Linked DNA regions of Homo sapiens. The protein of the gene in region 1 interacts with the protein of each later gene in a pairwise test. Each region holds a gene or a part of one and is shown in the gene's direction. Other genes may lie near its edges. The genes, in order: COIL, PTS, ARMCX1 and POLR3C.

Region 1 (7,040 bases):
AGCATTCTGTTGGGATCATTGGCAGTACTGAGAAGGCTAATGAGGAAAAGTGGAACTAGGTTGTGGGAATCCTGAGAAACAGCCTTTGAGGCTTTGGATGCACCACACACTTGTGTTCCACTGCTGTTTCCTCATAGCCCATTCTCTTAAGCCCCAGGAATCTGGCTTCATCTGCCCCCAGGTTTCTGACAGCGAGTTCCTAAAGGTGGTCTCTAACTGTCCTGGGAGGAGGAGGAGGTGCTTCTATTGGCTTGGAGCCCCCTGTGTTAGTTTGCTGGGGCTGCTATAACAAAATACCACAGACTGTATGGCTTAAAAAATGGAAATTTATTTCTTACTCTTCTGGAGACTACAAGTCCAAGATCAGGGTGTTGGCAGATTTGGTTTTTTTATTTTATTTTAATTAATTAATTAATTTATTTATTTTTCTTGAGACAGAGTCTCACTCTGTTGCCCAGGCTGGAGTGCAGTGGCACGATCTTGGCTCACTGCAACATCTGCCTCCCAGGTTCAAGCGATTCTCCTGCCTCAGCCTCCCGAGTAGCTAGGATTACAGGCACCCGCCACCATGCCAGGCTAATTTTTTTGTATTTTTAGTAGAGATGGGGTTTCACCATGTTGGCCAGGCTGGTCTCGAACTTGTGACCTCAAGTGATTTGCCCTCCTCAGCTTCCCAAAGTGCTGGGATTACAGGAGTGAGCAACTGTGTCTGGCGGTTTTTAATTTTTTTTAATTAATTTTTAAATTTTTTTTAATCGTGCAGCCCTCAGAATTACAGTAGATTCAGAGAGACTCCCTTATTTTTTGAGACAGGGTCTCACTCCATTGCCCAGGCTGGAGTGCAGTGGCGCAACCTTGGCTTATACAGCCTCGAACTCCTGAGCTCAAGGGCTCCTCCTGCCTCAGCCTTTTGAGTAGCTGGGACTACAGGTGCAGTTTTTTATTTTTAGTAGAGAGGTCTCACTAAGTTGCCCAGGCTGGTCTCAAACTCCTGGGCTCAAGTAGTCCTCCCGCCTTGGCCTCCCAAAGTGTTGGGACTACAAGCCTGAGCCACTGCCCCCGGCCTGAGAAACTCCCTTTTGAAGAATCAATTCTGTAAGGAAACAGTGCATTCTGTCTTCCCTGACCCTTTTAACTCTGGCAATTAATACTTGATGAAGGCTGGGCGCCATGTCTCATGCCTATAATCCAGCACTTTGGGAGGCTGAGGCAGGCAGATTGCCTGAGCTCAGGAGTTCGAGACCAGCCTCGACAACATGGTGAAACCCCATGTCTACAGAAAAATACAACAAAATTAGCTGGGCATGGTGGCACATGCCTGTAGTCCCAGCTGCTTGAGGGGCTGAGGTGGGAGGATCATTTAAGCCTGGGAAGTAAAGGCTTCGGTGAGTTGAGATGGTGCCACTGCGCTGCAGCCTGGGCGACAGAGTGAGACCCTACCTCAAAAAACAAACAAACAAACGAACAAAAAAACACATTGATTAAATGTTAGAGATGGGCCAGGCATGTTGGCTTATGCCTGTGATACCAACACTTTGGGAGGCCGAGGTGGGAGGATCACTTGAGTCCAGGAGTTTGTGAGCAGCCTGGGCAACACAGGGAGACCCTTATTCTACCAAAAAAACCCCAAAAAACAAACAAAAAAAATTAGCTAGGCTCAGTGATGGATGCCTGTAGTCCCAGCTAGTTGGGAGGCTTAGGTGAGAGGATCACTTGAGCCTCAGAAGTTGAGGCTGCAGTGAGCCATGATCGTGTCACTCCACTCCAGACTGGGCAGCAGAGCAAGACCGCATCTCAAACAAAACAAAATATTAGAGACGAGTTCTCATTTCATATTGCTGTAGTTAGTGGCTCCTTGGATAGTCCAAGATAAAAAGTTTCCTACTACTTTTATCATATACTTTTTCCCACACCTCACTCTCCAGAAGTATCCTTGGTTAAGTTTGGGGTATGGGGTATATCTTAGAGCCAGATTTCTATACATGTGCAACCATATGTACTTATACTTTTAAACTACAAATATCATAACATACTGTTCTGCACCTTGCTTTTTTACCTATCATGGGCTATCTCAGTATATAAAGTGTGTGATGTATGTCATTCTTTTCTGTTTGCTACATAGTGCTTTAGTGAATATTCTTGTATTTTTTTTGTACTTGGAAAATTATTCAGTTGGATTTATTCTTAGAAGAAATACTCATTGGTCTAAGAGAAGGTACATATAAAAATTGATAAGTACTGTCAAATTAGCTTCCAGAAAAGTTGTACAGACTTGTACAACTTTTAAAAATTCACCAACTTACCCATGATAGGACTAACAACATTCATTGTACTAATAAAAATTAGAGCTAACATTTGGATATCACTTGTTCTGAGTCAGGCATGCTCTCTCTGCATAATAAGTCACTGAGTACTGTAATTATTGTCATTATCCCCATTTTTATAGATGAGAAAGGCTGAGGTAATGATTTTAAAAAAAATTACAGTGGCAGAAATAGCATTTGAACCCAGGCATTCACGTTGGCCTTGGCAGGCAATGGGTAGGGAGCATCAGGTTGGACAGATGGGCATGTCAGTGTTTCTGCATAACAGAATCCTAGACAGTAAATTGTAGATTTTAAGGGTGGACTTAGATTTTGATAATACCACTCAGTTTGCCTTGCAAAGAGTTAGAATGAAAAGTGGGGATAGCTGGGCATGGTGGCTCACGCCTGTAATGCTAACACTTTTGGGAGGCCGAGGCGGGCGAATCAGCTGAGGTCAGTTCGAGACCAGCCTGACCAACGTGGCAAAACCCCATCTCTACTAAAAATACAAAAAGTTAGCCAGGCGTGGTGGCAGGCACCTGGAATCCCAGCTACTTGGGAGGCTGAGGCAGGAGAATCGCTTGAACCCAAGGGGAGGAGGTTGCAGAGAGCCCAGATCATGCCACTGCAGTCCAGCCTGGGCGACAGAGCAAAATTCCATCTCGAAAAAAGAAAAGTGGGGATCTGTTTTTTGGAATCAACTCTTTCGTCACTAGTGACCTAGGTAATTCACTTCTACTTGTGAAAGGACAAATGCATGCACTTTTGTTTGTAAAAGGATAGCTCTATTCTTTGTCTGTGATCCAGGTAAAGAAATAGAGAATATTGCCAGGGAAGGTGCACCTGACAGGAATGGTAACTAAGCAGACCCAGGAGAACCATTTCTTTTTCTCTGGATGGTATTTTGCCTCTCAATCTTAATATTTTCTTTTTTTTTTTCTTCCCAGATGAGGGCTCACTGTGTTGCCCAGGCTAGTTTTGAACTCCTGGGTTCAAGTGATCTTCCCTCTGCCTCCTGAGTAGCTGGGATTACAGGCATGTGCCACCACACCAGTTTATAATCTTAATATTTTAAAAACTGAAATTATTCTCTTGGGGAACAGTAGGTAGTGGGGCTGCAGGAATCACAGGTCATACCTTCAAGCCAAATAGCTGTAGATGCATGGTCTTTTTTTTTTTATTTTTTGGAGACAGAGTCTCTATCTGTCGCCAGGCTGGAGTGCGGTGGCGTGATCTTGGCTTACTGCACCCTCTGCCTCCTGGGTTCAAGCGATTCTTCTGCCTCAGCTTCCCGAGTAGCTGGGACTACAGGCGCATGCCACCATGCCCAGCTAATTTTTGTATTTTTAGTAGAGACTGGGTTTCACCATGTTGGCCAGGCTGGTCTCGATCTCTTGACCTTGTGATCTGCCCACCTCAGCCTCCCAAAGTGCTGAGATTATTACAGGCATGAGCCACCGCGCCCGGCCAATGCATGGTCTTAAGAATGGATGAGACGATGCTAAGAGCTGTTTTGGAAGGCGTGAGGGTGTTGCCAGCTTCCAGGAAAGGAAGGGGTTCTCATCAACTGGATGTTACATGTGCTGTTTTCCAGGGCCTTAATAAACCACAGTGACTGAACAGAGACTTGCAACCATTTTCAACATTTGACAGAAAGTTTGGTCCTATTTGGTCATCTCAGAATTGAAGCTTGGATCATTGCTACAAGTGAAAACAAATTGATCAGAAATGTCAAGAAAAAAATCTGATATTGTAGCGCTTCCATGGTAGTTCTTAGATTCACAGGATGCCAAACTGGCTTTTGCCAGATTAAGAATTATTTCCTTGCTATTAGATGCCAAGCTGGGAACAGAGGGGAATGTGTTTTTATAATTTAAAATCCCTGGTCACTCAGCATTTTATTTGTCTCTTTCTCCTACTCCTGATATCAGTAACTCTTATTTTATCTTGATTTGTTTGTCTGTATAGTTAGTTTTCTGACAAATAATTGAGGATTTTTTTCAACTACCGCATTGAGGTAAATCCACAGGATTACTATGCCTTAAAAAATTTAAAGAATGCTTGTCACATATGCTCCTATCATTCACCAGTTGTTCTTTATTTTCAAATATGATTGTCTACATCTTTCCCTGGCCACTGAAAAAACTTGATGAAATATATAGCTGAATGTAAATGCCTTGTAAGTATAATGTGTGTTTTCAGCAGTGGCGCAATTACAGCTCACTGCAGCCTGGACCTCCTGGGCTCTAGTGATCCTCCTACCTCAGGTAGCTGGGCCACAGGCATGCACCAACCATACTTACCTAATGTTTGTATTTTTTTTTTTTTTTTTTTTTGAGACGGAGTCTTGCTCTGTTGCCCAGGCTGGAGTACAGTGGTGTGACCTCGGCTCACTGCAAGCTCCACCTCCCAGGTTCACGCCATTCTCCTGCCTCAGCCTCCCGAGTAGCTGGGACTACAGGCGCCCGCCACCACGCCTGGCTAATTTTTTGTATTTTTAGTAGAGACGGGGTTTCACTGTGTTAGCCAGGATGGTCTCGATCTCCTGACCTTGTGATCCACCCACCTTGACCTCCCAAAGTGCTGGGATTACAGGCGTGAGCCACCGTGCCCAGCCTGATGTTTGTATTTTGTAGAGACAGGGTCTCCCTATGTTGCCCAGGCTGGTCTTAAACTCCTGGGCTCAAGCCACCCTACCACCTTAGCCTCCCAGAGTTTTGGGATTATAGGCATGAGCCACTGTGCCTGGCCAACAGGCATTTTTGAGTACTCACAATTTGCTTAACATTGAGGACAGTCTCAAGACTTCCATCATCATCAGACTGCACATACTAGGATTAGCTGTTGCCTGTTGATGGAGGAACAAAATTGCTTTCCTATAGTGAAATTTTGGATGAAGTAGGGTTATTCAGAGAAACATAACCAGTAAGACACACACACACACACACACACACAAATACTCACTCACAGACATGGGATTTATTGTAAGGAATTGGCTCATAGGATTGTGGAGATTGAGAAGTCCTAAGTTCACTTAGTAAGCTATAGACCAAGGAGAGCCAATGGTATATTTCTAGTTCAAGTTCGAGTTTGAAGGCAGGAGAAGACCGATGTCCCAGCTTGAAGAGTCAGGCAGAGAAATGAATTCTCCCTTACTCAGTCTTTTTGTTCTATTCAGGCCTTCAGTGGGTTGGATGAGGCCCACCCACATTGGAAACGGCAATGTACTTTACTCAGTCTAGCAATTTAAATGTTAATCTCATCCAGAAACAACCTTGCACATACTCCCAGCATAATTTTTTTTCCACTGAGGCAATATATTTGTAAATACGTATTACATCGTTATAAAAAGAATCCCAGGATTTTTCTTCCTATGTGTTTTCGTCTTGCTTCTTCGTGGTCTATGATGCCAGCCGAGGTTGTCAGTACAGTGAAACCAAACTGGTGGGATGGGAGCAGGTTATTCTGCCATTTTTCTAGATCTTTGAGTTGCACGTCAAATCTGAGGCTGATTATTCCATACTTGTTTAGCCTGCCTGTGAGGTTCACAACAGTTTTCCCAGCTCTATGATCATCAGTGGTTTCAGATTTGCCAGTGTAACCATGCTTCATCATTATAGTTAGAAACTGGACGATGGGGCTGGGTGCGATGGCTCATGCCTGTAATCTCAGCACTTTGAGAGGCCAAGGTAGGCAGATCACTTGAGCACTTGAGGCCAGGAGTTCAAGATCAGCCTGGCCAACATGGCAAAACCCCATCTCTACTAAAAATACAAAAATTAGCGAGGCATAGTGGCAGGCGCCTGTAATTCCAGCTATTTGGGAGGCTGAGGCACGAGAATCTCTTGAACCTGGGAGGGAGAGGTTGTAGTGAACTGAGAAATGCACCAGTGCACTTTGGCCTGGGTGACGGAGTTGGGACTCCGTCTCAAAAAAAAAAAAAGAAAAGAAAAATAAAAATAAAAAAAAGAAAACGGACAGTTACTTTGGAGCTCGGCCTAATAAGAACCTGGCATTTACCTTGCTTTTCAGCTTTGTTGATGCTCTTGAGAGCATCAGCCAAGACATTCATGTGCACCACTGTGGTGGTATGGAAAGAGCCAGCGTAATTTTAACCAGATATCTGGACGTCCAATAGCCCGGACAAATTGATACATAAAATTAAGCTTCACAGAGTGTTGTGGAATTGTACAGATGGCTGTCACTACCCTAGAGAACATAAATTGTTTAGTATTCACCTAAATTAAAACAGGAGTAAAATCTTATTAAAGAAAGAAGCCCACATTCTGAAACAAAATGGATAATCAGCATTATCACCTTTTAGGGTAGGTGACATGCATATTGTAGAAAGATTGTGAGTTTGAAGTTAGACAAACTGAAGTTTGAATTGCGTTTCTGCTACTTATCAGCTCTAGATTTGGGGCAAGTAACTTGTCTGAGCTGTAATTTTGCGATCTGTAAAATTAAAAATACCTACTTTGTGTTGGTGTTTAGATTAGAGAAAAACGTATTAAAAATGTTTAGGATGCAGTAGCTATTCAATAAATAAAACTAGCCATTTGAAAGTTGACTGTGAGTAATGCTACATAGGCCATTTTGCCAGAAAGAGTCTTTTGTCTTTAAGTGATGTGACATTTTTTCATTGACTGATGGTAGTTACATTTTGTAGAGTCATCTCAGTATATAACTATGTCCTGGAGATGTGTTTATAAATTGCTCACTCTAGCTTTCTCT
Region 2 (5,086 bases), on another chromosome or scaffold:
GTTCCACTCTTTTTGCCCAGGCTGGAATGGTGTGATCTCCCGTCACTACAACCTCCACCTCCCAGGTTCGAGCGATTCTCCAGCCTCAGCCTCCCGAGTAGCTGAGATTACAGGCGCCCGCCACTATGCCTGGCTAATTTTTGTATTTTTAGTAGAGATGGGGTTTCACCATGTTGGCCAGGCTGCTCTCAAACTCCAGACCTCAGGTGATCTGCCCGCCTCGGCCTCCCGAAGTGCTGGGATTACAGGCTTGAGCCACCACGCCTGGCCAAGATTTTTCAAATGCTTCTCACAAGCACTTTTTAATTTACAAAGCATTACTTTAGACTTTGTATACATTCATGTGAGTAAGGGGACAAGAATTTAAGGCCCAGTAGTATTGCTTGTTCAGAAAGGTACTGCTCAGTATTGGACCAGCTTGCTGTGTAGCTGGACACCTGAAAGACATTTTCTACTTCTACAGGCAGAGACTGAGCAGCATCTTGATGCTCCCTAGTGCATTAACATAAGCAGAATTTACACCCTTTTCAGCCTTGGCCGAGTGCCTCTGCTTAGCCAACATTCCTACTAAGCTCCTTTGTCTCGATTGTGTCTTGCTTTGGTTGCTAAAAAAAAAATCTTAACTAAAATAACAGATGTTTTGGGGTAAATATTTAAGTATAGCTTTTGGGGACAGATCTAATAATTTATGTTGCCAACTTGTGCTTGTATGTTGCTAACTTGTGCTTGGATGTTGATCTGTTGAAAGTCATGCTGTTTTTTTTGTATTTTGTTTTCTTTCCATAGTTGTGGTGACAGTACATGGAGAGGTATGTGCAGAAAATATTTGTGTGGTTTTTGCAGATTGCTGGGCTCTCTTTCAGCCAGTGTGGTGGATTCTGTGTTGAAAACTGTTCCAGTCAGTATTGCTTCATTGTTGGCCCTTGTATATGTGTGTGTGGTGAGCTGCCGCCATTCCAGGCCTCTCCTCTACCAAAGTGTTGTCTTTAATATGCTGTATGTGGACAGGTAGAAGGGCTATACAATGAAAAGGATGCTTGAAGTACATGGTGCTTCCATGCTGAGGTCAATGATTATCTCTGGGATGAAGGCAAATGTGCAAATGTGGGCACAGTCTCTGCACATTGTACTGCCTTTAATAATTTGCCAGCCGTTTAATATGGAGAGCCTATCACAGTAATATTCACCTTTGTTTATTCTTTAGATTGACCCTGCTACGGGAATGGTTATGAATCTGGCTGATCTCAAAAAATATATGGAGGTAATGGCATGTTGGGTGCTTATTATGTGCTATTCCCTAACTGTAATATTTGGTGGCCCCCTATCTACCTCCCCAACCAGTTATCTCCTAAGGTTCCATGACTTTGTGAATAGAACTGGATGTGGGTGTTGGGGAATAGTTGGAAGAACTGCTCGCATGGCCTCTAAAGGTGTTTTGGTGACTTAACGGAAATTAGTCACAGTTGTGTTACAGCGATGGGAGGAAATATAACATGCTCACCTTGTATTCCTTGTTGGAATATCCTGATTTCCTTCAGTTAACAAATTCTCCATTTCTTTTAAGACATAGCTTTCTCCTTGAGACTTACTGTCTTTCTTTTTTTTTTTTTTTTTAAATAGGCACAGAACCAATGCAAACTTTTCTTTTTGGTAGAGGTAGGGGTCTCACTATGTTGTTCAGGCTGGTCTCAGACACCTCCTGCCTTGACCTCCCAAAGTGCTGGAATTACAGGCATGAGCTACTGCTCCTGGCCTTCTCCTTGGAGCTTTCTCTTCCCTCTCTGAATATTCCTTGTACCTTTGATCATAGATTTAGACACCACACTGTGTTGTTCATTCTAGCTTTATTATAAACTCACCAGAGCAGTACCTCATAGAGATAACACACAAGGTGTTCAATGAAGAACTTAACTGATTGTGTCATTATAGAATTCTTGCACTGTAAGAGACTTTGGAGATTATTCAGACCAACTTCTTCAACCCATAGATTAAGATTGAGAGATGCTGAACAGTTAACTGACTTGCCCCAGGTCATATGGCTAGTCATTTGCAAAGCTGGGAGTAGATTTCTTTCCTTCCAGCTGTTTTATTATGCTGTCATTTCACTTGCAGCTTAGGTTTGTTCTGAGATTTGACATTTGCTTGATTAAAATGATGTTATTAGTAATGATTACTTCTTTCACATTACTTATTCATATATTCAACAAATTTCTCTACTTCGCATCAGTTTTTGAGCTAAGTGTACAAAGATGAATGAGATGTAGCCCACAGAGTGTATACATTACTTTTTCTAGGAGGTGAAGAATATTATTAAATAACTGTTGATTTAATAAATGAGTAGAAGAATGAGTGAATGAAGAAACAGCACTATGCTCAAAATACTTTAGGAAAGTTATACAGATAGGGCCAGCATGCATTTATGGGGCAGGGGTTGGGGGGCAGGCGGAGAGAGAGAGAGAGGGAGACAGAGACAGGAGAAGAGGAGGGGGAGGGGAGGACAGGGGAGGAGAGGGGAGGGGAAAGAAAGAAAAAGAAAAAGAGAAAAGAAAAGAAAAGAAAGAAAAGAGACAAGACAGCAACATAAAAGGCCTCAACATATGACTAAATACTGGAGGAGGGCTTCTCTATGCTGTTTTCTGCTTTTGTATGCCTGAAGGACACCACACACTTTCATCAGTAAAAGTGGCTTATCATGGCATGTAGAGTAAAGTTAGAGCTCTACCGTGGGGGGAGGATTGCTTGAGTCCAGGAGTTCAAGGCTGCAGTGAGCTATGATTATGCCACTTGCACTCCAGCCTGGATGACAGAGACCCTGTCTCTAAAAACAAAACAAAAGAAAACAAAAAGCCCTGCATAAGAGGCTTTAATGGAGAAATTGGGACTGGAACTGGGATTGAAGATGAAGCAAGGATGCCCGTTTTCTTGTTATTCATGTGGAACATCCCTTCATTGGATATATTTCAATAACTGTTTGATCTAGGACTTACTCTTTTTGTATGATTCTAGTTTTTCTCAAGAAATGATTGCTGTTACTGTTATTAATGTACCCTTCTTCAAACTACGTCCTATGGAAAATTACATTTTTTTTTCACAGATGCTTAGATTTTTTGCAATAGCTAAAAGCAAAAACCTAGAAAGAATGAGGCAATTTAATCCTTGCTGATGATGAGGAAAAACATTATGTTAATATACACGAGCATTAGGGAGTAATAGTCTTTACATATATATATTTTTCCTTCTATGAGCCCAAGATCATTCTTAAATTATTCCTCATAGCAAAAATTTAGAACTACTTACATAATTTCAGTCTAGGTCTGCTTTATAAAATGTAGTAGTCACTGGATCTTTGTCCTTATGATATTGTGGCATTGTTCCGTAGGTGTGACAGTGTTATGGAAAAATATTTGTGCTAACTGTTTGGACAGGATTCACAAAGTGTTAAACTGAATTCTGAATTACAATGGCTTGTGTTGCGAGAAAGCTCCAGGAATTCTCTGCTTTTTGGTTTCTCACCTCTTTTTATTCAGTAACAAGGATTCCTAATCATTACCGACAGCTGGGCCTGACTTTATTTTACAACTTGAAATTTTGTAAAGTTGCCTTGTAAGACTCAAATCTAGTACTTACAAATATTTAGTTAGTGGCTAAGTGATAAGGTGAGGTTTAGAGGCATAAGTGGAACAATTTGGAATTTGAGTCGTAAATGGAGTCAATGATATTTTCCCTTGGTTTTGTCTCTAGGAGGCGATTATGCAGCCCCTTGATCATAAGAATCTGGATATGGATGTGCCATACTTTGCAGATGTGGTGAGGTGGGTGGCACTGTATCTTGCCTTATGTGGATTGTAAAACAAGAATTGATTTGAATACTTTGATTGTTGTGTGATTTCTGAAGTTTTAATTTAATGAAATCTTTCGAAACTAGAATTTCTATTTTCTGTAAATATTAAACATGAAATTTTATTGTTTGCATTTTGAATTTTTTTTGTTTTTGTTTTTTTTTCTTATAGCACGACTGAAAATGTAGCTGTTTATATCTGGGACAACCTCCAGAAAGTTCTTCCTGTAGGAGTTCTTTATAAAGTAAAAGTATACGAAACTGACAATAATATTGTGGTTTATAAAGGAGAATAGCTATTGGGGTTAGCATTGCACAAAGCCCAGTTTCTTTCTGTGTTTGAAAAAGATTTTGATCCCCTTGGAATATTAAGAGGTCAACACGTGATTGTTGTACGTACACATTGTGCTCTGGAGTGCCTATTTATTGAAATCATTGTAAGACCTGTTATAAATTTAAGTCTATTTAAAACTAAACTTGTAATATACATCCTGAAAATCATTTAGAGAGTCTTTTATTTATAAATTAAAAATCACTTCATTTTCACAAAATGTTTTGGTGTGGGATTATTTGAAAGCAAAAGAAATCTAATTTTGTTTTCTCCATTACCTCATTTTAGTATTAATTTTTACTTGGTATAATATACATGGTTAAAATGCTTATGTGACTTCGAGTAGGTGAATCTTAAAGAAATAAAATTCAAGTGACCACAAAGTCTGGAGACAATATATATATGTATATTTAATAGATTGAACTCTCTTGATTACTACTTGTTGGGTGTGCTGAAGGCATAAGTGGATTCAGTGAAAATTAGACACACAAATCATGTGAGGCATCTGTTGTGGATACACGTACAAATATTGATGGAAATGCTGCTTTAGAGCACATCATTCATTACAATTTTGCACAGCGTATTGAACTATGAATTGCTAGTGAGGAACAACACATTAAACATATCATGGAATATCAGTAAATTATTCAGTATACTCCTCTGAATTTCTGAACCTGATGGGCACTTGAATAATTTCAACTCAGAAGACTGCAGAATAATCATATTTTAAACTCTAAAAAATAGTCAGCATAAAAAGGATCAACTACCATATAAAATATTTCCTGTATATAGTTTTTCCTAATTGATCCCATTTTGTTCTGATTATTAAACTTACTATATGCTTGGCATTCTTCTCTGGGATCTTTTCCTCGTGACTAAATCCACAAGAAAGTATTTGCTTACTTTGCACGGAAGAC
Region 3 (7,943 bases), on another chromosome or scaffold:
CATCACTGGCCATCAGAGAAATGCAAATCAAAACCACAATGAGATACCATCTCACACCAGTTAGAATGGTGATCATTAAAAAGTCAGGAAACAACAGGTGCTGGAGAGGATGTGGAGAAATAGGAACACTTTTACACTGTTGGTGGGACTGTAAACTAGTTCAACCATTGTGGAAGTCAGTGTTGCGATTCCTCAGGGATCTAGAACTAGAAATACCATTTGCCCCAGCCATCCCATTACTGGGTATATACCCAAAGGACTATAAATCATGCTGCTATAAAGACACATGCACACGTATGTTTATTGCAGCATTATTCACAATAGCAAAGACTTGGAACCAATCCAAATGTCCAACAATTATAGACTGGATTAAGAAAATGTGGCACATATATACCATGGAATACTATGCAGCCATAAAAAATGATGAGTTCATGTCCTTTGTGGGGACATGGATGAAATTGGAAATCATCATTCTCAGTAAACTATCGCAAGAACAAAAAACCAAACACCGCATATTCTCACTCATAGGTGGGAATTGAACAATGAGAACACATGGACACAGGAAGGGGAACATCACACTCTGGGGACTGTTGTGGGGTGGGGGGAGGGGGGAGGGATAGTATTGGGAGATATACCTAATGCTAGTTGACGAGTTAGTGGGTGCAGCGCACCAGCATGGCACATGTATACATATGTAACTAACCTGCACAATGTGCACATGTACCTTAAAACTTAAAGTATAATAATAATAAAAAAAGGAGATATACCTAATGTAAATGACGAGTTAATAGGTGCAGCACACCAACATGGCGCATGTATACATATGTAACAAACCTGCACGTTGTGCACATGTACCCTAGAACTTAAAGTATAATAAAAAAAAGAAAAAAAGTTGGTAAATTTTGTACTGTAAATATAAAAAATTCTATATAGAAGTCCAAAAAATTATAAATCGGGAAAATATTTATAACACTTATTGAAGTCAAAAGACTCATTTGCTTAATTTGCAGAAAGTTCTTATGTATTAGTAAGAAACAGATGAACAACTTAGTAAAAAAATGAGGAAAGACAGTACACAGAAAGATAAATACAGATGCTTAACAAACCTCTAAGAAGATGTTTAATCTCACTTATAATTAAATAAATTAATTATTTGGAGCACAACATAGAATGCATATATATATATCTATCTATCGATCGACCTATATATATATATAAATTTAAGAGGTGAAAGTTGGCAGCATGGGTAAAATTTAAAATGAACACCCATTTTGACACAATTATTTTACTTTTAGGAATTTATCTTGAGGAAATAATATCATAGTTGCCAAAATATATATAGACAGAAGTCTTCACTGTGGCATCTTTGTAATAGATAAAGATTAGGAAGAGGCTAAGTATCCATCAGTAAAAGATTGGTTAAATTCTGGTAAATCCACGCTTCAGAATATTAGTGTGTCTGCTAAAAAGATTCACATGATATATCAGGTGAAAAAAATAGTTATGCAGAATAATATGCATAGTATAATCCCAAATTATTTTAGAAAGATATATGTGTACACACACACATAATGTATCTACATATATTTTTTAGTAATATATGTGAAACAACAACAAAACCTGGAAAGAGTCACCTGAAAAATTAACAGTGGTTTTCATAGGATTTATCCTAGGATTGAAGTAGATTGGTTATCACAGTAGTTATCAGAGGGGTGGGGAAGTTGAGATTTTTTATTTTCTGTTCCCCTCTTTTCCTAGTTACCACCTGCTTTTCTTCATCTCAGCTGAAAACTTCACTCTCTCTGCCCCAGCAAGGAAACTTTCCCTGATCCTCAGACTATGCCCCTTTTTTAAAAACGATATTAACAGAGGTTTTTTCCTTTACAGTATTTTTCTCTCTCTCTGTGTGTGTGTGTGTGTGTGTGTGTGTGTGTGTGTGTGTGTGTGTATGCGCTCATTTTATTAAGGTCTTATTTCCACCACGAGAGAAGAGTCTGTGTTGTTTTTGCTCACCAATACATTCCCCATAAGCTCAGCACTTGTGGCCGCTCTCCCTATTTCCTCTCCTTCCCAGTATTATGATATGGACAATTTAATTTTCCTCAGTCTTATATAAAGGGTTATAAAAGTGCACCTTTAGGCATCCCCCAAATCATCCATACACAGATGAAGAAGAACACATGAAAAACAAACAGCAAATGTCAGGTTGCACTAAACAATGAAATACTAAGGACACTCCCATTTTCTTCAAGAATAAGATCTGGAGGCCCTCAATCACCATTATCATTCAAACTAGTTCTGCAGGTTCTGGTCAATGGAATACATGCAGAAAATAAAAGAATAAAGAATATAAATACTGGAAAAGAAGAAATGAAAAATCATCATTTGCAGATATTATGCATGCATACCTGGAAAAACCAAAAGTATCGATGAAAAAACTATTAGAAATAATAAGAATGGTCACTAAAGATAAATATATCATAATTAATTACTTTACCTGAGACAAACAATAACCAGGTAGAATGTGTAATCATAATGGGAATGTCATTCATATAAACAAAACACAAACATAATAAGAAATGAGTATAAAGAAACATCACATTTATTGAAAATCTCAAAAGTTGGCATGGATAGAAAGACTCCATTTTTAAAGATGTAAATTCTCCAATTAAAGTGCAGATTTATTGCAAGTACTGCAGTAAATGTCAATTGTTTTGTTTTGCATATTGTTCAACTTGGAACTTGACACATCCACATACATATACTGTATATTTGCAGGAAGAAAGGTCGATATCATTGAAAGTGCTTGGTGGTAGAATAGGCATTGCAGGGCAGTTTTGCATTCTACTCTACAGATTTCTGCACTTAAAAAAATAAGTATATAACTAGAGACAGAGAAGAGGGGAGAGGAATAGACTTTCTTTTTCTTTTTCTTTTTTTTTTTGAGATGGAGTCTTGCTCTGTTGCCCAGGCTGGAGTGCAATGGCACAATCTCAACTCACTGCAACCTATGCCTCCTGGGTTCAAGCAATTCTCCTTCCTCAGCCTCCCAAGTAGCTGGGACTACAGGTTCGTGCCACCATTCCCGGCTAATTTTTGTATTTTTAATAAAGATGGCGTTTTACCATGCTGGCCAGGCTGGTCTCGAACTCCTGACCTCAAGTGATCTGCCAGCTTCAGCCTCCCACAGTGCTGGGAAGGAGTAGATTTTCTATTGAGGGGATATATAGCTTTTTTTCAGGAAAGTATTAATAGTTCTTAGTTATTTTTTAAAAGTCATACATGCCTGTGAGAATCTGATGAAAGCTATGGCTCCTTTCTCCACGAAAATGAATATACGTATGACCACAATTGCAGGTGGTCCACAAGGTTGTCCGTGTGAGAATGCCTACTCTGGGTTAATCCATGGGGATTGTTCCTTAGGCATACATTTGGCTGAGCGGGCACCAAGGTGGATATGGACTGGCAGGCAGTAACTCTGCAACAAGATTAGGTTCTCTTTTTAAGGAAGCCAGAGGCAAGAAGCCCAGCGGGCTGCACCTCTCAGGTCAGGTGGTGGCAGCACACAGTATTAGGAGCAATGCTCACTCAGGCACCATGAATAAGGGCAGAGGGGTAGGTAGGAACAGAAAGCCCTTCGATGCATTGCTGTTACCTCTGTGGGAATTTGGGGAAGGAAGGGAAGGAGCCAAAGGTATTTACTCTGATTGGTCACCTGAGTAAACGTGGCATTTACCACCTTGGTCACTCATCTATATATATTTTTGGAGTGAACAATAGATGGGTGCCTGAATACAGGGGATGAGAGGCTATGGAATGTGGAAGGGTGGGAGGGCAGCACCTTCTTCCGCTCTTGACAGGGCAGGAAGGATTAGAACATCGCTGCATCCCTCACACCCTCAGGTGCCTCAGCCTTGGTAGACTGGAATTCAATTCAGAGGCAGGTGATCAGAGTAGCCATCAAATCACAAGAGGTTCATATAACAGTCGGTCAAGACTTTGGGACGTTAAATACATGCTTTTCTTTAATTTAATAAGACAGGGTTGTGTTGCTTTAACTTATCAAATTGCAAGTTGATTCAAAAATAGAAAAAGTAAGGAATTATTTGTGTAAAATGGCCAAGATTAGACAACTGGTCGTCTCTTTGTGGAGTAATTCATAGATCATGTAAAAAAAATCCATTTTTTTTAAGAGATAGAGGCTTGCTCTCTGTCACCCAGGCTGGAGTGCAGTGGTGACATCATAGCTCACTGCAGCCTTAAACTCCTGGGCTCCAGCAATCCACCCACCTCAGCCCACTTTTCAATTTTAAAATGAGTTATTTTGTTTTAAAAGCTACTAATTGGCTGTAACCAGTAGAAATATTTTCCTACTGTTACAAATAAAATAACGAAATTAATGAGGCCTTTTGGGTTTTCTCTCCCGTTTAAACTCTCCACTCAAAGGAAAATAGCATCATTTTATTTTCTCAATATAAAAGTAATGCGTTACTGATTTAAAAACAAATGAGCAGAAAAGTTTAAATAAGACACTCCCACGATCTATCTCCTTTTCTAACATCTTGCTCCACATTTTACAGGGGTGCAGAAGAAATAGGACATTCATGACTTGTGATGGGGGGAGGTATAGAGAGAGACAGTTGGACTGGGACTAGAGAAGATAAAAAATTATTCCTCGAAGAGGAAGAAAAGGCCAACGGACACGGGAGCAGATACAGCCTCTCCCTGTAAACCAAAGAAAGGCAAATTCACCACAAAGAGAAGCTACTTCTAGTCTCCGGGGTTGGCAAAGAGGAAAATGAGTGACAGGACCTGATGTGTCAGGGAAGGAAGGGGAGGGCCGGCTTCTGCGGCGCTGCTGATGGGAGTGGTAATTGGGGTCCTGATCTCATGGTTGACGTGGCCCTCACGTGAGCTGGAGCCGACGCGTGCAGACGTCCTTCTAATCCTAGTCTTCGTTTGGTCCGGTTGCACTCTTCCTATAGCCCAGAGGGCGAGAGGGCCTGTGGCCTGGGGGAAGGAGGACGAGGTTCTGCCTGGATCCCAGCAGGTTTGTGTGTGGATGGGCGTTGCCAGGGGATCCCTGCGGCGCGGGCAGTGAACCGTGGAGGCCGAAGGGGGAGCACAGTTCACTTTCTCCAAACCCTTGCAGTATCCCTTGCCCTTTCTAGAACAAAAATGGTAGACCTTGGGGCCGGATTCCAGGGGCGACCCCAGACTCGGGCGTCGTGGGACCTTTAACATCCAGGGCCTTGAATCAGGGAGGGCGGATATTCGGATTCATGTCCTGTGTGCTGGCCCATCTACCAAGCCAGAATCTTGGGGCTGTGCGTCTGACAGTCATACCCCTTTTCTTTCAGTAGGACGCTGTGCCATTTGGGAACAAAGGAATAGTCTGCCTGGAATCCCTGCAGGTCAGTGTAAAGCTGGAGCTGTCCCGCGGCGCCCAGAAGGACTGGGATGACTGAGGTCCTTGCCTTAACTTGGGCCCTTTACCGACTCTCAAGCAATCTTCCTGCCATTTTTTTTTTCTTCAGTAAAAGAGGATGTAACAGTGGCTGCAGGAAAAGTGCTTGTGATTGCGGGTAGGGTGCGTTGGGGAGAGGAATAGAAGAGATCGGTTGGTTTTGTTTTTCTCCTCGGATTTTCCATATCCCCCCTCGCCCCGCCCCGCTTCCAGTGGTTTGAAAGGGGTGTGGTTTTGCTGGGAAAATGGCCGACCGCTGGGGCTGCGGGAGGGAGTGAGGGCCGGGGGCGGGGACGGGGGTAGGGGAACACTACCAAGCGACAGGGCTGGTGTCAGCGGAGTCCAGAGAAGTGAGGGTAGGGTGAGAAACAAAAAGGTAAAATCCATTGACAGCCAGGACCCTGAATTAGGAGAAGTGGATATTGGGACTCCCCGAAGTGCTTTTCTGTCCGCTGAGCCTTCAGTTTCTGCCTTGTTGCCTGTGTCTGCAGATCTTGGGGCCGGAGGCCAGTCCAACCCTTGGAGCAGGAAGAAACGCAAAGTTGTCAAGAACCAAGTAGGTCATAATAAGGGTGATGGCATTATTTGGGGGTGGAGCATGGTGGCGACTGCAACTCGAATGGGCCCGTGGACCCCTTCCATATCCCCCTCCTTCCCTCTTATCTACACCATTTCGGAGCTTGCAAAAGAAATTGTTCTGCAAGTACAAGACAGGGAAGAAAATAGCTGAGAAGGGGTGGGCGTCAAGAGAGTCCAGGGGTTGGGAGGACGTTACTCCAAATTACTGTTTGGGGTACAGGGTCCTTGGTGTTGGTCCGTCGACCAAGCACTCACTTCTGAAGTTTGTCAGTCTTGAAGGTTTAGTGGAAGCGGAAACCGAGGTGAGGGAGGTAAGAAATTGCTCCGGAGCAGAGGTAGTTGGTATAATGACACGGGGTGGGGGGGGGGGGCGGCGGTGTCCTGGTACATTTGAGATGGAGGAGTTGGCGGAGGCAAGGGCGGAGTTGGAGACCTTTAGGCATTTCACGCCAGTACGGCTTTTAGATATTCTCACTTCATTTTGTTACAAGGAAAATGTTAACGATGAAAATGTGTGGCGACATCTTCGGAGGATGCCAATGATGGGAGTAGGGGTGGAGGTGGAATGGAGGGTTAGAGGAATCATCGAAGGAGGAAGAGGGAGGGAGATAATGAATTCCAAAGCCGCAGCTCTGTGAGGAGAGGAGGGTAACCGAAGGCGGGAAACATTGGGCAAGGCAGTTGTAAAGGGCTAGGAATTCAGAAGAGGGATGTGTGCCCCGTCCCGGGTGAGATCTATATGTACCCAGAGCTCTCAGTACCCCTCTCCCCGCGCCCTTGGTCTGCAGGTTTGCACGAAGCAGTGCACTTGGAAGCAAGAAAGAGAAGGAAAAAAAACTGCCTGGACCTCTGTGGGTGCATGTGAGGGCGCCACTGTTCACAGGACATCTGGAAGGGCAGGGGTGGCAGGGAACTTTAACGTTCTAGGGTGGGGTGGTGGAACGTGAGGTTGGAGAGTCTTTAAGCGGGGAAAATTTCCAAACTTAGCTTCCGGGTGGAAGAAAGGAATCAGTGATCTAGATATCAAGCCCCGAGTCTCTGCCAGTATCTCTGTATTTTTGTACGTTTGTTTGTTTTGTTGTTGTTTCAGTCTGTTTGCGTTCAAAGACACAAAAAGGAGCCTGAAATCTGAAATGCATCCTTTATTCCTAGGTCGAGCTGCCTCAGAGCCGGCCCGCAGTAGCTGCAGACTCCGCCCGCGACGTGTGCGCGCTTCTCTGGGCCAGAGCGAGCCTGTTTTGTGCTCGGGTTAAGAGATTTGTCCCAGCTATACCATGGGCCGCACTCGGGAAGCTGGCTGCGTGGCCGCTGGTGTGGTTATCGGGGCTGGTGCCTGCTACTGTGTATACAGACTGGCTTGGGGAAGAGACGAGAACGAGAAAATCTGGGACGAAGACGAGGAGTCTACGGACACCTCAGAGATTGGGGTTGAGACTGTGAAAGGAGCTAAAACTAACGCTGGGGCAGGGTCTGGGGCCAAACTTCAGGGTGATTCAGAGGTCAAGCCTGAGGTGAGTTTGGGACTCGAGGATTGTCCGGGTGTAAAAGAGAAGGCCCATTCAGGATCCCACAGCGGAGGTGGCCTAGAGGCCAAGGCCAAGGCCCTTTTCAACACGCTGAAGGAACAGGCAAGTGCAAAGGCAGGCAAAGGGGCTAGGGTGGGTACCATCTCTGGGAACAGGACCCTTGCACCGAGTTTACCCTGCCCAGGAGGCAGGGGTGGAGGCTGCCACCCCACCAGGAGTGGATCTAGGGCCGGGGGCAGGGCAAGTGGAAAATCCAAGGGAAAGGCCCGAAGTAAGAGCACCAGGGCTCCAGCTACAACATGGCCTGTCCGGAGAGGCAAGTTCAACTTTCCTTATAAAATTGATGATATTCTGAGTGCTCCCGACCTCCA
Region 4 (3,743 bases), on another chromosome or scaffold:
AGAATTTAATCCACCTATTTTTGTAAACTAGCAATTCTGAAGATGTTCTGAGCTTCTTCTCCATCACCATATACACTCTCTTGTTCATCAAGTACTGATAAATTTTTTTTAAGAGACGGGGTTTTGGCTGTGTTGCCCAGACTGGCCTTGAACTCGTAGGTTCAAACAGTCTTCCTGCCTCAGCCTCCCAAGTAGCTGGGACTACAGGCAAGTGCCACTGCGCTGGCTTAATTTTACTTGAGTCATGTGTCTCAAATCTGGCCTTTCATCTTGGTCCACACGCAGGCCTTCATCACCTCTTTCCTAGACCTTCACATTTCAGTGCACAATTTGTGCACCTCTTTCATTAAATTTATTTCTTAAGTATTTTTTTGGATACTAGTTTAGTGGTCGCTTATTTCAGTTTTAGATTGTTCATTGCTAGTGTTATACAAAAACAACCAACTTTGGTGTTGTGATTTTGTATCCCACAACTTTACTAAATTCATTTATTAATTCTAGTAGTTTTTTTGCAGATTCTTTGAGATTTTTTATAATAGGATTATGTCATCCATGAATAGAGAGAGTTTTACTTCTGTCTTTTCAATCTAGATGCCTTTACTTTTTTTTTTTCCTGCCCCATTACCCTGGCTAGAACCTCCAGTAAAAGGTTGAATAGAAGTACAAAAGCAGACATCTTTGTTTTGTTTCTGATCTTAGGAGAAAAGCTTTTAGTCTTTCACCATTAAGTATGATGTTAGCTGTGGGTTTTTCCTAGATGGCTTTTGTCAGGCTGAAGAAGCTTCCATTTCTTCCTAATCACCACTCACTTTAAGCTTCAGACACTCTTAGTTTCTTGCTATTTTAAAACACACTAGGTCCTTTTATACCTGTGCCTTTACGTTCGTTTTCCTGATTGCAAATGAAGACTACCTTCCCCCAGGACAGAGGCTCTGTATTTTGTATTCTTAGCAGTTTGCATGGTGTCTGGCACATAAAGATGCTCGGTAAATAGCAAAATGATCTACTGGTTCTCCTGCTTTCTTTCCATCCACTCTCAAGGGTAACCAAGCAGTTATCCATGGCCACACCCACCCTAACCTCTAATCTTAAATATGCTAATGAACATTCAGTCTAGGCAAATGCCTTTACTTTTCACTCAGGTTGGATGCCAGTGAGATCCAGGTGGACGAAACCATCTTCCTGCTGGAGTCTTACATTGAGTGCACCATGAAGAGACAGTGATCCAGAAGAAGCATCTTCCTCAGAAGATCTGGGGGGATGGAAAGCAAAATAAAGGAGGTGCCTGGATGCATTATTTGCAGTGGGATAAGTCGCAGAGTCTTCAACTAAACCCCCCTCTCTATCCCCTGCAGCCCAGGATACACCTGAAAGAATTTGGCATATTTAGATCCATTGCTGTAGTCTCCCCTCATCAAATCTTGGCAGTGGGAAGAACCTTAAATCAACAAGGTTAATCATCTATCAGATGCATCTGTTCCCATAAAGAAGTTACCCACACCTATGGTTACCTATATCCCTGGCAATAGGAAACTTCCTAAGAAGTTAATTTTATTTTCAGATGTCTATGCCTGTTCTTTATTTTGTTGAGATAGGTGATAGATAGATAGATAGATAGATAATTTGTTGTTGTTGAGACAGGATCTCACTCTGTCACTCAGGCTGGGGTGTAATAGCGCAATCACAGCTCCCTACAGCCTTGACCTCCTGAGCTCAAGCAGTCCTTCCACCTCAGCCTCTGGAGTAGCTGGGACTACAGGCATGCACCACACATACCCAGCTATTTTTTATTTATTTATTTATTTTTTTGTAGAGACAGGGCCTCCCTGTGTTGCCCAGGCTGATGAACTGTAATTTTTAACACACACAGTGTAGGGAATGTGAAAGACTATCACAGAGTAGAAGAAAAAATTATTTTCAGGGTTAGCAGGTGGATTGTCCCAAGCAGTCACACTAGAATCTGTGGACTGAAGCCACATTTGCCAGCTCCAGGCTTCTAACACATCTGAAACTGTGTATGTAGAACAGCTAGCTCAATGCCTGGCATATGGTAAGCACACAGTAAATTAGCGCCTTCCTCTTCTCCATGGTTCCTTAAAACTGGCAACGCTAAATTCTCTCTCTCAGTATCACGGATATAATTTGTCCCAGCAGCTTTAATTCATTTAAAGCAGTTAGATGTTTTATAATATCTTCAGTTTTCTCTCACCAATGTGTTTTCTAATTGTTTAAACACTTGAGTGTCAAACAATTGCCAGCCACCATACTAAACACAACATACAAGGATAGATAAATAAGACACCATCTCTGCCCTCAAGCCAGTCACCATCATTTACTAAGCACCTGTTTTGTGCTAAGTACTGGGGTAAGCCTTGGGGATATAAAGATTAATAAATTTTGAGCATACAGTCTAGTAGGAGGAGACAAATAAGTACATAAGTACCAGGAAGTATTAGGGGTGCTACAGTAGAAGAGTAAACACTATGTACAGAGAGGCCAGAAAGGGAAAAGGGTCAGGCAGGGAAGGGAACACAGAGAGTGACAATGTATAGTTTGAAAGATGAGGATGCTTTATTTGCAAACTATCTTAACAAGGGATTCGTAACCAGAATATATAAGGAGCTCAAACAATAGCAAAAAGAACAATCCAACTTAAAAATGGCCAAAAGATCTTAATAGGTAGTTTTCGAAAGAAGATACACAAATGGCCGACAGATACATCAAAAAATGTTCAACATCACTAATCAGAGAAATGGAAATCAAAATCAATGAGATAACATCTCACCCCAATTCATTACTTTTATCAAGAAGAAAGAATGAATGCTAGTGAGGATGTGGAAAAAGGAGAGCCCTGCCTGGTACACTGTTGGGAATGTAAATTGGTACAGCCACTGTGGAAGACTACAGAGGTTCCTCAAAAAACTAAAAACAGAACTATGCTCCAGCAGTTCCACTACTGGGTATATATATATCTCCAAAAGGAAAGAAATCAATGTATCAAAAAGATACCTGCACTCCCATGTTTATTGCAGCAGTATTCACGATAGCCAAAACATGGAATCAACCTAAGTGCCCATCAATAGATGAAAGGCTAAAGAAAATGTATTATTCAGCCATAAGAATGAATGAAATCCTGTCATTGGCAGCAACATGGATGGAATTGGAGGTCATTATGTTAAGTAAAATAAACCAAGCACAGAAACAAATATTGCATGTTCTGTCTCACATAGGAGCTAAAAAAGTGGATCTCAAGAAAATAAAGAATAGATTGGTAGTTACCAGAGGCTAGGAAGGATGGGGAGGATGAAGAGAGGTTGATTAGTGGGCACAGATAATACAGTTTGAAGAAGTAAGACTGGTGTTGGATAGATCAGGGTGGCATAGTTATTAATTTACTGTACATTTCAAAACAGCTAGAAGATAATTTTGATGGTGCCTAAATCCTGTAATCCCAACACACTGGGAGGATCAGTTGAAGCCAGGAGTTCAAGAACAGCCTGGGCAACAGTGAGATTTCATCGTTACAAAAAAATTTAAAAATTAGCCAGGTGTGGGTAGTGCACATCTGTAATCACAGCTACTCAGGAGGCTGAGACGGGAGAAGCGCTTGAACCAGGGAGGTGGAGGTTGCAGTGAGCTGAGATGGCGCCACTGCACTCCAGCCTGGGTGACAGAGCGAGACTCCGTCTCAAAAAAAAAAAAAGGCCGCGCGTGGTGGTGGGCGCCCTGTAATCCCAGCTACT

The links.
Region 2: the proteins of COIL (region 1) and PTS interact in binary tests that used the Homo sapiens proteins (3 or more experiments, as listed by UniProt).
Region 3: the proteins of COIL (region 1) and ARMCX1 interact in binary tests that used the Homo sapiens proteins (3 or more experiments, as listed by UniProt).
Region 4: the proteins of COIL (region 1) and POLR3C interact in binary tests that used the Homo sapiens proteins (3 or more experiments, as listed by UniProt).

The regions. Positions count from the first base shown.
Region 1 is NC_000017.11:56,951,013-56,958,052, reverse strand, and holds part of COIL (coilin), read left to right. Parts: intron 1-5,609; exon of another isoform or gene 5,610-5,943; intron 5,944-6,289; exon of another isoform or gene 6,290-6,405; intron 6,406-7,040. UniProt on the Homo sapiens protein: Component of nuclear coiled bodies, also known as Cajal bodies or CBs, which are involved in the modification and assembly of nucleoplasmic snRNPs.
Region 2 is NC_000011.10:112,229,422-112,234,507, forward strand, and holds the end of PTS (6-pyruvoyl tetrahydrobiopterin synthase), read left to right. Parts: intron 1-786; coding exon 787-809; intron 810-1,204; coding exon 1,205-1,261; intron 1,262-3,741; coding exon 3,742-3,812; intron 3,813-4,010; coding exon 4,011-4,134; 3' UTR 4,135-4,552; downstream 4,553-5,086. UniProt on the Homo sapiens protein: Involved in the biosynthesis of tetrahydrobiopterin, an essential cofactor of aromatic amino acid hydroxylases. Catalyzes the transformation of 7,8-dihydroneopterin triphosphate into 6-pyruvoyl tetrahydropterin.
Region 3 is NC_000023.11:101,545,611-101,553,553, forward strand, and holds the start of ARMCX1 (armadillo repeat-containing X-linked protein 1), read left to right. Parts: upstream 1-4,936; 5' UTR 4,937-5,050; intron 5,051-5,360; 5' UTR 5,361-5,414; intron 5,415-5,958; 5' UTR 5,959-6,023; intron 6,024-7,198; 5' UTR 7,199-7,320; coding exon 7,321-7,943. UniProt on the Homo sapiens protein: Regulates mitochondrial transport during axon regeneration. Increases the proportion of motile mitochondria by recruiting stationary mitochondria into the motile pool. Enhances mitochondria movement and neurite growth in both adult axons and embryonic neurons.
Region 4 is NC_000001.11:145,841,197-145,844,939, forward strand, and holds the end of POLR3C (DNA-directed RNA polymerase III subunit RPC3), read left to right. Parts: intron 1-1,142; coding exon 1,143-1,224; 3' UTR 1,225-3,206; downstream 3,207-3,743. UniProt on the Homo sapiens protein: DNA-dependent RNA polymerase catalyzes the transcription of DNA into RNA using the four ribonucleoside triphosphates as substrates.